Linked DNA regions of Homo sapiens. The protein of the gene in region 3 purifies or fractionates together with the protein of the main gene of each other region. This does not show direct contact. Each region holds a gene or a part of one and is shown on either strand. Other genes may lie near its edges.

Region 1 (3,653 bases), on a different chromosome or scaffold from region 3:
ATATAATCTTTCTTATGGGTTAAAGTTATTGAGAAATGGGAAAATAGTCAAGTAATTCTAGAGTTGAGTTGGCTACCTAAATTATTTGATTATTACCTTTGAACAAGTTACCTGACATTTTCAGTTCTAGTTTTTCTGTTTATAAAAAGGAGTGATTCTTGCCTACTCATTATTTTACTTTGGCCTTTTGAAATTTGCTTAAATAATATCTGTAAAACACTTTAATGGTATTTAGACATGTATTGTGTGAATAAAAAATATTTTTATAACGTACCATCATTACATTTTTGTGGATAGCAGCTAAGAAAAACAAACCGCTACATGTGTGACTTATGAAATTAGCTTATAAAAAATTGCCTTGGCAAAAAATAACTTTCTTTATCCTTTTCCTCTTTGGTATTCTAAAGTTTAGTGACTGTTCTTTTGTTCCTAGCTGTATCTTCAGTGGTGTGATGAAGCTACAGTAGGGGAGGTGAGTGGTTCTGTAACATTTATCTTAATTAAAATTTAATGAGAAAACACTTTTGCTCAGAATCGCAAGTCCCTGCTCATAAATGAAACATTGTGGTTTATACCATTAGTGATATAGTTTTTCACTTACTTTAATTTTGCTTGCACATAACATTTTAGGGAAGCTATGTGTCATTGTTTGATATAACGGGTTGCAAAGTACATAAAAGTTTATATATTTTTAAAGGGAATGGCTTAAAATTTTAATTTTTTAGATTGCAGGATGTGTATTTTTTTCAGATTGCTCTATTTATGTTCTCTGAAAATATATTTCTTTTAGAATTCTATTTGTAAAAACGGGCATTGTTTTTAGGAAGGATCACCTTTTTTACAAAATCTTTTTACTTTAGATCACTCATGCTAGGTATGGATCTCCTTACCCTTGGCCTCTGAATCATATTTTGGCCTATCAAAAACAGTGGGAAGTCAAACGTAAGATGAAAGCTATTGGATGGGGAAAGAAGACTCTGGACCAGGTCAGTTCAGGTTGAAGTTGACAAAACCCTCAACTTTTATGCATTAAAAGAATCATTCTTTATATTGATACTCCTTTAAAAAAATATATATAAGATTTGCAAGAAAACCATTTCCTGTGATTTTCACTAACATGAAGTAATTTTATTTCTAAAAAATCATACATGCTTGATGTAAAGCAAACAATGCAATGCAGATATGTGTAAAAAAGCAATAAAACTTGCCTGAAATCTCATCACCTAGAAAATACCACCCTTAACTATTTGGAGAGCCTTCTTCTAGATGTTTCTTAGTAACATTTTCTCAAATGGGATCATTATGCCTGCTACTGTATAACCTGAGGGTTTTTTTTTTTTTTTAATTGAACAATACATTGTGGGCACCTTTTATGTAACTAAATATAGATCTGCAGCATCAGGGCTTAAAAAAAAAGCCCTGTTAAATACAGTACTTTGTCCGTCTGTCTGTCTATCTATCTGTCTATCTGTCTATCTATCTGTCTATCTATATTTTTGCTACTAAAGTAGCAAAACTTAAAAATACTTATCTTGTCCACAAGCATCATTAAGTTAATTAATGCCCGTCTTTTCCAAGGCTACCCTTAATACTAGCCAGCCATCTCACTGATGTGTGCCATTGGCTACAAGGGGGTTTCAGTAAATGAATAGGGATAGAATAAATAAAAATCTATCTCCACTAGTGGGAAAATAACTCAAATGCTTTTACTCATAGTGGGTCAATGTTGTTACCTTTATTAAGCAGATTTTTTGGTATATGCAAAGCCATTTGAATATATGGATTCAGGAAGACACTTTTGTTCTTGACAAAATCCTTATAAGTAACTTAAATGTACTTGTATTTTGAAGGACATTCACTGAGAATTTCTTCCTATTTCTTGTATACAAAGTATTATATATATATACTTATATAGAAAGTATTTCTTATAAGTATTTCTTATATAGAAAGTATTTCTTATAAGTATTTCTTATATAGAAAGTATTATATATATATGTGGTCTATGGTCTTATTAAAATATATTATAAAAGGTTAACTTAAATTTATATTTTTGTTATAAACTGTGATACAAGTTACGTTTTAGATACTTTTTATTGTTTTGCTAATTGAAATACTTTTCCTTGGGGTTCATTGCCTGTGTTAGGTCTTAGAGGATGTAGACCAGTGCTGTCAAGCTCTCTCTCAAAGACTGGGAACACAACCGTATTTCTTCAATAAGCAGTAAGAAATTTTACTTTTTTAAAGTTAATTTTCTGTACTGTTAGGTTGCAAATTTCTTTTTTTCATAAAAGAATTGCTTTTTCAAGAAAATATTTAGCTATTTTTATAATTTTTGTACTCAAATATTTTTGTGGCACTTTACTCTCAGGCACAGTGCTAGGCTCTAGGAGACTAAGATTTCTAAAATATGGTCCTTATCATTAAGAATTTCTCTTAAAGGCAGTCATGTAAATCAATCATTGTATGATAAGGTTTTAATGAGGTAGTTCAAGGTGCTATACATGGAACTACAAAATCTTAACAAAATTCTAAACTTGTACTATTAAACATGAAGGAAAGTAAGTTACTATTAATGTAACTATGGTTTTCTATATAGAATGATAGCTGGAGGATTAGAAGAGTCAATAAAACTAAATATTAAAAAATATTGTTTGATGGACAAGCACTATTATGAACTTATCTTTTAAAATGTTAATGAAAATATTTGTAAAACACAGAAATTAATATAAAGGATATAGGTTAAATATATGTGTATATATGTAAGTTGAATAATGTTTCATTAATAGATTTGCTTTTGCAGTTTTGAAAAGACTCTAATGAAGGCAAAGAATGAATTTTCCGTTGTTAAAAAATTACAATTTTAATATATCAGAATCAGCTGTCCTGTGATCCAGTGTAAGATGGGCTTAAAGCATTTTAATCTCAAAACTTTCCCTAGAAAGTCTGACCTTTTCTTGACATTTTAATAAAAATTATTTGATTTTTAGATTAATAATTTCTAAAAGGCTTTATTTGCTATTATGTGTTATATCGTCATAAGCATTCCTCTTCTATAACCATATCAAACATATTTGGGTAAAGATAATATTTGTAGTAAAAATGGCTATGATGATAGTTTGGAAATATTTAAGTTATATTAATCTATAACACAAGTAATATATACATATATAATTGATATTAAAATCTGGGTTCTGTTGATCTTTGAAGCAGAAAAATCTTCAGAATTCAAACTGTGAAATTCTGGTGGGTAAAGCTTCTACAACTCTGTTCCTGTTTCTAGTGATGTTTGCTCTACAGATTCTATTTTTCAGTCCCTAACACAAGAGAAATGTATCCAAATGTCAATATTACGTGATTTCTTTTCTTTCTAACAGAGGAATTCTTAGGAATTGAAAAGCTCAGAAGGGGTGTGTTTTATTGAAATGCATTATTCTATTTTAGTTTTGTTATGCACACTGTCTTTAGAGGAGGCCAGGAGAATAGATCTAACTTACTTTTCTTCTCAGTTAAACTCATTGTCATTGTGTTAGTAACCAGAGTTTGGCATGTGACTCAGTGGAAATATCAAGATATCATTTTTCTTCATAAGGGCACAATTACATTTACACTTGTGATGAAAACTTCTAACTTAGAACAGTTCAAACACCAAAGCC
Region 2 (3,653 bases), on a different chromosome or scaffold from region 3:
CTTTTGACCAATCTATTAAGTGTCTGATTGCTTCCTTGCTTTCTGGCATAATAAGACATTCCAGGCTCACCTTCCTCCCCCAGACATGGAGCCCTCATTCCCTTCATTGGGAAATGGTACATGAAGACCACAGATGGGTACTTGGGACCCTTGAACTTTTGGTGTGCATACTTGAACAATACAGCCTAAAGTTCGTATCTTTTTGCCAATCAATACATAGATATTAAGATGCTTTTATTCTGTTTTCCCTGTTTTTGTCTTCTGTGTTATTCTAATATGTGACCTCCACTCAATTAGTCATCATTATTTTTTATGGTAGATTTTTTTTATTGTAGTAAAAAACATAAAATTTTCCATTTCACCCTTTGTAAATATAAGTTCAGTTGTGTTAAGTATATGCACATTGTTGTGGAACAGAGCCCCAGAACTTTTTCATTTTCAAAGCTGAAACTCTGTACCCATTAAATGACTACCTGTTCCCCAGTCCCGGCACCCACCATTCTCCTTGCACCCACCATTCTCCTTTTGGTTTCTATGAATGGGACTACTCTGGATACCTAATAGAAGTGGAATTAGACAACATTTGTCATTTTTACATCTGGTTCATTTCACTCAGCATAATGTCCTCAGGGTTCATCCATTTGGTAGCATGTGGCAGAAATTTCTTTTTTTTTTTTTAAGGCTGAAAAATATTCCATTGTATGTATATACCACATGTTATTTATCCATGCAGCTGTCCATGGACACTTGCATTGCTTCCATCTTTTGGCTATTGTGAATAGTGCTGCTGGGAATGTGCTGTGCAAATATATCTTCAAGACTCTGTTTTTAATTATTTTGGGTATATACCCAGAAGTGGGGTTGCTGGATCATATGGTAATTCTATTTTAAATTTTTTTGAGGAATCTCCATACTGTTTTTCGCTATGAGTATACCATTTTACATTTTCGCCAGCACTAGGGTTCCAGTGTTTCCACATCCTCATAAACACTTGTTCTTTTCTGTTTTTTTAAACAGTGGCCATCCTGAGAGAAGTGAGGTATTTGGTTGGTGCAAAAGTAATTGCGGTTTTTGCCATTGAAAGTAATGACAAAACCCGCAATTACCTTTGCACCAACCTAAATGGTCTCATTGTGGTTTTGATTTGCATTTTCCCTGATGATTGGTGATGTTGAGCATTAGTCATTATTATTAACAGTCAATGCTTACTATATTTTATCAACATACTTATTAGTTTCTTTGCCAGATTCACCACTTGTTAGAATTTTTTCAAACCATTTGAGAAAAAGTTGAAGACATTATTTCCTTTTGCCCCTACCCCCAAATACATTAGTTTGTGTTTCCTCAGAACAAGAATATTCTTTTAGATAACCACAATGGAATGGTCAAAATCAGGAATTAGCACTGCTACAAAACTATTATCTGATTACCTACCTTATTTCAATTTCACCATGGTTCCAATAATGTCCTTTATAGCCTTCTTCCCTCCCATGCCGGGATATAATCCATGGTCATGCATCACATTATTTGTCTTGTCTCTTTAGTCTCCTTTAATCTGGAATAGTTCCTCGGCCTTTCTTTGCATTTAATGACCTTGACTTATTTGAAAAATGAAAGGAATAAATGTGCATAAAAACTGATGGGCTATACAGAGACTACATATTCAGAAAAAGACAGGGAGAAAAGTGCTGGCAGTCTCTTGTGGAAAGTTTTACACGATGGAACTACAGGAGTTCCAGGAGTTCAGCCCTCAAGATCTAGAGAAAGTGATGCAGGCTCAGTGGCTTCTATTTTACCTAGATGTCACAGGTAACATAGAAGAAACTGGAAAGAAGTCTAAGAAGGAAACATGAGAGGAGGAAGAAAGATAAAACAGGAAATCCAGAGGTGGTGTTTTTGAGTTCTAGAAGGCAAAAGAAATCCTTACTGTAGAGATGCAAGGATCTGATCCTTTGTCTAGCACAACAGAGAGAAGTGCTAGAGGATAAGGACAAGGAGGAGAAATATGTGGATCATCCTTTAGTGAAAATCCTGAAATAGAGCTTCCATGCAAAGGGCTGGATCATCAAGATCTGGATAAAGAAGCAGCGTTGACACAGTGATGAGGCGCCAGTCCTTTGCCTGAGGCTGCAGAGTTTCTCAGTGCATGCCACACACGTGCTTACAAGATGTTCCAGGCTGCATGGGACTTTCCTTGCCCCAGCCCCCAATTTAGCCATTTCTGCAAGGAGTCCTGCTTCCTTTTAATGAGGAAAGGTATTTAGAAACTAAGATCTGGGCCCCAGGTGTGCTCATGGCTACTGGGGTGTCACTGCTTCTAGGCCCTTCTAGAAGAACTGAGCAATATGGATCTTTATTTCTGTCTCTCTCTAGGGCATAGATATACATATATCATGTATAATGCATGTACACATATTAAAAGTACAAATTCAGTATTTCCAATTCTAATCCATCACCACTGGATGATGTCCTCCTGTGCTTACTGCTACAAACTTTAGATCTGTAGTCCATCTGGAATTAGTTTTGGTAAATGATGTCAGGTATGAATCAAGGAACTTTTTTTGTTTTCCATGGGATATCCAGTTGTCCCAGCACCTGTGATTGAATAAGTACTTTACTTATTCACAGTAAGGTAGGGTGTCAGGACCATTGCCCATGTTTTTAAATAGGGAAACTGAGGCTCAGAGAGGTACTTCTTTTTTTTTTTTTTTGCTGACATCACAGAGAGCTGACAAATGGCAGAAGCAAGATTTGAACCAATGTATTTATTTATTTTTGTCACCCAGGCTGGAGTACAGTGGCACAATGTCAGCTTACTGCAGCCTCAACTGCCCAGGCTCACGTGATCCTCCCACCTCAGCCTCCCAAGGAGCTGGGACCACAGATGTGCACCACCATACTTGGTTAATTTTTTTGCATTTTTTGTAGAGACGGAGTTTGCCGTGTTGTCTGTGCAGGAGTTGGAACTCCTGGGCCCAAGTGATCCACCTCCCTTGGCCTCCCAAATGTTGGGATTACATGAACCAGTGCACCTGGCCAGAACCCAGATTTATTTGATTCCAAAGTCAGGGCTTTTCCCCCTTGCCACGGACATTCAGTTTTCCTGTCTACATAATAAGTGGTATGAAATCTGCAGTCATCAGATCCTCCCACACTGACATTGTGGGTCTCTGGGCTTAAGCCAGGCAGACATATGTACCCAGGAAAACATGGGGTGTGCAAACACAGCAGAGCACAGAGCCACAGCACAGAGGGCAGGCACTTCATGTGGCAGGAGAGTGCTTGTTTTGTAACCAGGGGTCTGTGGGTCATGGTGCATGGACCCTTGCTCTGGCAGGGGCGGGCATGCACTCCTTCTCCCCCCATACTCAATCAGTGAATAAAGTAAGAACCATCACAGAACTAGGGGTTTCCATCTGCTCTATGGCCATCTCCAGGTACCCATCTTCTCCCACATTTAAAACTCAGTTGGCTGGCTATTAGACCAGTGAGTGCCAAGGCTTGAGCCTGAGCCTGGCATTTGCCATGGTAACAAAGAACAGAGGCCCAGCATTTCAATCCCTCTGGTAGCCTTTAGGTTGGCATGACAACTACGGAACAGCTCATTAGCCTGGGCTCTAGCAGAAGGGAGATTTGGAGTGGCAGGGGATCCT
Region 3 (3,753 bases):
AAAAAACAAAAAACCAAAACAAAACAAAATAAAAAACAAGGGCGTCTGGCTGTGTTGCCCTGGCTGGACTGGACTCCAACTCCTGGGCTCAAGAGATCCTCCCATTTCAGCCTCTGGAGTAGCTGCTACTATAGGTTCGCATTACTAAGTCAGGTCGTTTTTACATTTTTAAATGGTTACAAAGGTCATATAAATACCCACATAATAATATCCTCCATTTTATCCTCTTAAACCGCAAAGGTTACATTATTTATTATCTGGCCGCTTAAAAAAAAATTGGGGGCCCCTTTCTATTCCTTCCCAGACCTCAGCCAGGAAACAAAGCGCCAAGTACCGGACCTAAACAAGCGCTCAGTCCTGAGAACCATGACTCCGCCGTGGCCCTGGAGCCTGGGGCTGGCTCCCAGCTCGCCGTCCAGCCCTCCCTGGAGGCAGCGGGTTTTCCTCTTTCCCGGGGGCCAGGCTGAGCGCCCCAGGTGGGGCTGTCTGTGCCCGAGATGCCCCCAGGCCCCTTTCAGAGCGCCCCTGCGGCTCGGGCGGCGGCTCGGCGCGGGCAGCCCCAGCGATCGCGCAGGCAGAAGTGCCACACCAGGGCGGCACAGCTTAGCAGGGCCAGGGCCGTGCCCACCCCGACGGCCGCGTGGACCAGAGTGCGGGGGTTGGGCGGCACCGCAAGGCGGCTGCAAGGCCCGAAGGCAGGGATGTCGGCCCCCTCGAGGCCCTCTCCTCCAGCCTGGGGCACGCGGCTTGCCCCGGCCTCGTTAGCGGCCACTACGCAAACGACATAAATGCCCCCTGGCTTCAGCCCCTTCAGTTCGGCTCTGCGGACCGTAGCGTTCAGCGGGGGCCCCTTCTGCGCAGCCTCGCTGCCGTCCCAAAGCAGCAGCCAGTAGTGGAGGACCGGGGAGAAGGGGGCACACCAGTGGACCACTGCGCGGCCCTCTTCGGCCGCAATGCGCACTTCTCCCATGCGCGGCGGGTCGGGCGGCTGGGCGGGGCTGGAGAGTCCTGGGCACAGGCAGGCCGCCGGCCCGACCCTCTGTAGCTCCTTGCAGGGCACCTGCAGGTGTCGGCAGTGGTCGTAGTCGCAGGGGACAGCCGGCAAAGGCGGCCACGCCGTCTCAGTCTCATCTGCCTCCTCTTCTTCAAAGTCTTGAGGGGCCAAGGGCTGAGCTCTGGGAACCAAGAAGGTCACGGCCAGGAGCCACAGAAGGCAGGGAGAGCCCAGCATGGAGACTGGAAGGGAAGGGGTGGATAGATAAAGCCTGTTCAGCCCAAAAGCCTGCCATGCCCTCTGCCTGGACACAATCTCTGGAGACAGGAAAATGCAACTGGGGATCAGAAGAGGAAAGAAGTTGGAATGAGGCAGACACACTCATTTGTCAACCAACTTCTGAGTCCAGGCTGTGTGCTTGGTTTCAGACAAAAAATAAAACATGATCTGACACATGAGACAGATGCATGATCAGCATGTGTTAAGTATTAGAAACAGTTAATGAATAAACAAAGTGCTGAGGGAGAGAAGAGGAGGACATGATTTACTTAGCCCAGGGAAGAACGGTAGGATATTTACTAGCTGCCACCCAGAGAAAAGATCTAAGCAAAACAAGTAACAAAGCCGGGCCCCTAGGCTGATGCCTATAATCCCAACACTTTGGGGAAGTCAAGGCAAGAGGATTGCTTGAGGCCAGGATTCCAAACCAGCTGGGGCAACACAGAGAGACCCCATCTCTACAAAAATTAAAAAGTATTTAAAAATTATTAAAAAGTTAAAAAACATTAAAAATATACTGCACATGCCTGTGGTCCCTGCTACTCAGGAGGATCACTTGAGCCCAGGAGTTCAAGGCTGCAGTGAACCATGATCGCCCCACAACACTCCAGCCTGGGTGACAAGAGTGAGACCTCAACTCAACAAAAACATGTATCCGTCAGTGACACAGGCAAAAACCCAGAAAGGAGACAGAGTTGAGAAAAGAGAACAGAATGGAGAAATATTGTAAGCACAGCTGTATTTTTTGAAAACAAGAGAAAAAAATAGGGACGCTGGAATCCTCCCTCCCCACCTGCTATCTGTGCAAATCCTGTCCAAGGAGTCCTGGCCCCTGCATGCCTCCCTCCTCCTCTCTGGCCCATAGCAGCTCCTCACCAGTGGGTAGGCCTTGATGCAGCGGGAATCCACCAGCTGACGTCTGTGGGTGTTAGGCTGAGGGATCCCCAAGATCTCAGGCTGTGCTGTCAGGTTGTATCTTCAACTTCAATGCCGTTTGGCTGGAAGCTTTTATAACCTTCGACTGTGATGTCACCACCTAGCTCCCCTCCTCCTCCCCCCACCTCCCTGGTGATTGCCAAAAAAGAGGGCTGCTCCCTTCAGAGGGACTGAGTCACGGGGCCAGGGATGGGGAAAGCCACATGCAATGGTTTCAGCTGGAGCCCAGGATGCCTGGGTTCTGGAAGGGGAGTGGAATGTGGAAAGCAGCCAGGAGCTTAGAATCCGAAGGCTGAAGTCATACAACGGGATGGGGAGGGGAACATAGAAGGCGGCCACCTGGCTGATATTAGAGGAAAACAGCTGCGAACAGCACGGGCCTGAGCCGCAAAATGCTGTTTTGGTAAAAATCCTACCACATCCATGGCAGTCATTTCCTGTCTTCTGCCTCCCAATGGACAGAGAAAGGGAGGAAGGGAGGAAGGGAGGGGTGTAGAGGGGGCCAGAATGATGTCTCCCAGCTCTGCAGACCTGCCCTACACCATCCCCCTCCTCTGGGGGAGATGAAAGTCACATGCAGGGAGTGGGAAAGCTTGCTAGGGGCCAGGATAGCTTCTCCCTCCTTGGACTTCCTAGGCTTATGAATGGAAACATCTGTGCTTAAAATAGCCCAGGTCTGGAGGCCTTCCCCTGGACAAGAAGACCTCCCCTCTAATGGCGGAAAGTGAGAGATGCATGGGGGACACAGGGTGTTCAAATGGCCCTGAACCCATTTCAGAGTCAAGGAAGAAGCTGACACAAAATAGTTTATTGAAGGAAAAACGAGGGGAGAGGAGTCAGGTGGGAAAGTGCTGGAATGTGAGGAGTCTGCCCCTTTTCTTCAGGAACTAGAGCAGGTGGGGCGCTGTCGGAGAGCACCCCCAGCAGGTTCAGAGCTGCCCAGAGTCTCTAGGACAGGGGCAGAAGCAGAAGCAGGAGCAGGAGCAGGCAGGTTGGCCTCCGTCAGCAAAGCTGCATCTTCCCAGGAGCCTGAACCTGGGCCAGGAAAGGGAAAAACAAAATCTCAAATGGGATATTAGATTAACCGGGGGCCCCACCCAGGTCACGCTGCAGGATGCCCCTCACCATCACTGGCCTCAGGCTCTAGCTCCTCTTCTCCGCTCAGGGGCTGCTGATCTGGTTTCTCCTCCTCGGACAGCTGACCCTCTGCAGCCAAAAGGGGAATGCAGGGGTCAGACCCAGACACTGAAGGAGAAAGCCAAGGAGTCAGGAAGGAGAGAGTGTGGTGGCTGCGCCATACCTGTCCCTGAGGGATCTTCAGGGCTCTCACCATCCTCTGTAACATCTGATTGCGGAGTTGACTCCTCCTGGCCTTCAGGCCCTGCACCTCCAAAGAGGGAGAGGACAGGTTAGGGTTAGGGTGGCTGTGCCTGGACGGCAGTGCCAACCTCACCTTCCTCGCCTTTCCTTTGACCCTTGTCTCAGTCGGTGATACCCTAAGCCTCATACTGGATGAAGCAGGGACTCCTTCTGGCCCAGCCCAG

What was found.
Region 1: the proteins of LRRN4CL (region 3) and MTX2 purify together in Homo sapiens (affinity purification with mass spectrometry; one large-scale study listed by BioGRID and IntAct). This does not show direct contact.
Region 2: the proteins of LRRN4CL (region 3) and PODXL2 purify together in Homo sapiens (affinity purification with mass spectrometry; one large-scale study listed by BioGRID and IntAct). This does not show direct contact.

The regions. Positions count from the first base shown.
Region 1 is NC_000002.12:176,328,441-176,332,093, forward strand, and holds part of MTX2 (metaxin-2), read left to right. Parts: intron 1-433; coding exon 434-472; intron 473-860; coding exon 861-986; intron 987-2,143; coding exon 2,144-2,220; intron 2,221-3,653. UniProt on the Homo sapiens protein: Involved in transport of proteins into the mitochondrion.
Region 2 is NC_000003.12:127,663,667-127,667,319, forward strand, and holds part of PODXL2 (podocalyxin-like protein 2 precursor), read left to right. Parts: intron 1-3,653. UniProt on the Homo sapiens protein: Acts as a ligand for vascular selectins. Mediates rapid rolling of leukocytes over vascular surfaces through high affinity divalent cation-dependent interactions with E-, P- and L-selectins.
Region 3 is NC_000011.10:62,687,278-62,691,030, forward strand, and holds the start of LRRN4CL (LRRN4 C-terminal-like protein precursor), read right to left. Parts: upstream 2,254-3,753; 5' UTR 2,150-2,253; intron 1,237-2,149; 5' UTR 1,232-1,236; coding exon 515-1,231; 3' UTR 1-514. Other genes in the region: BSCL2 (seipin), read right to left, coding at 3,090-3,244, 3,335-3,415, 3,510-3,596.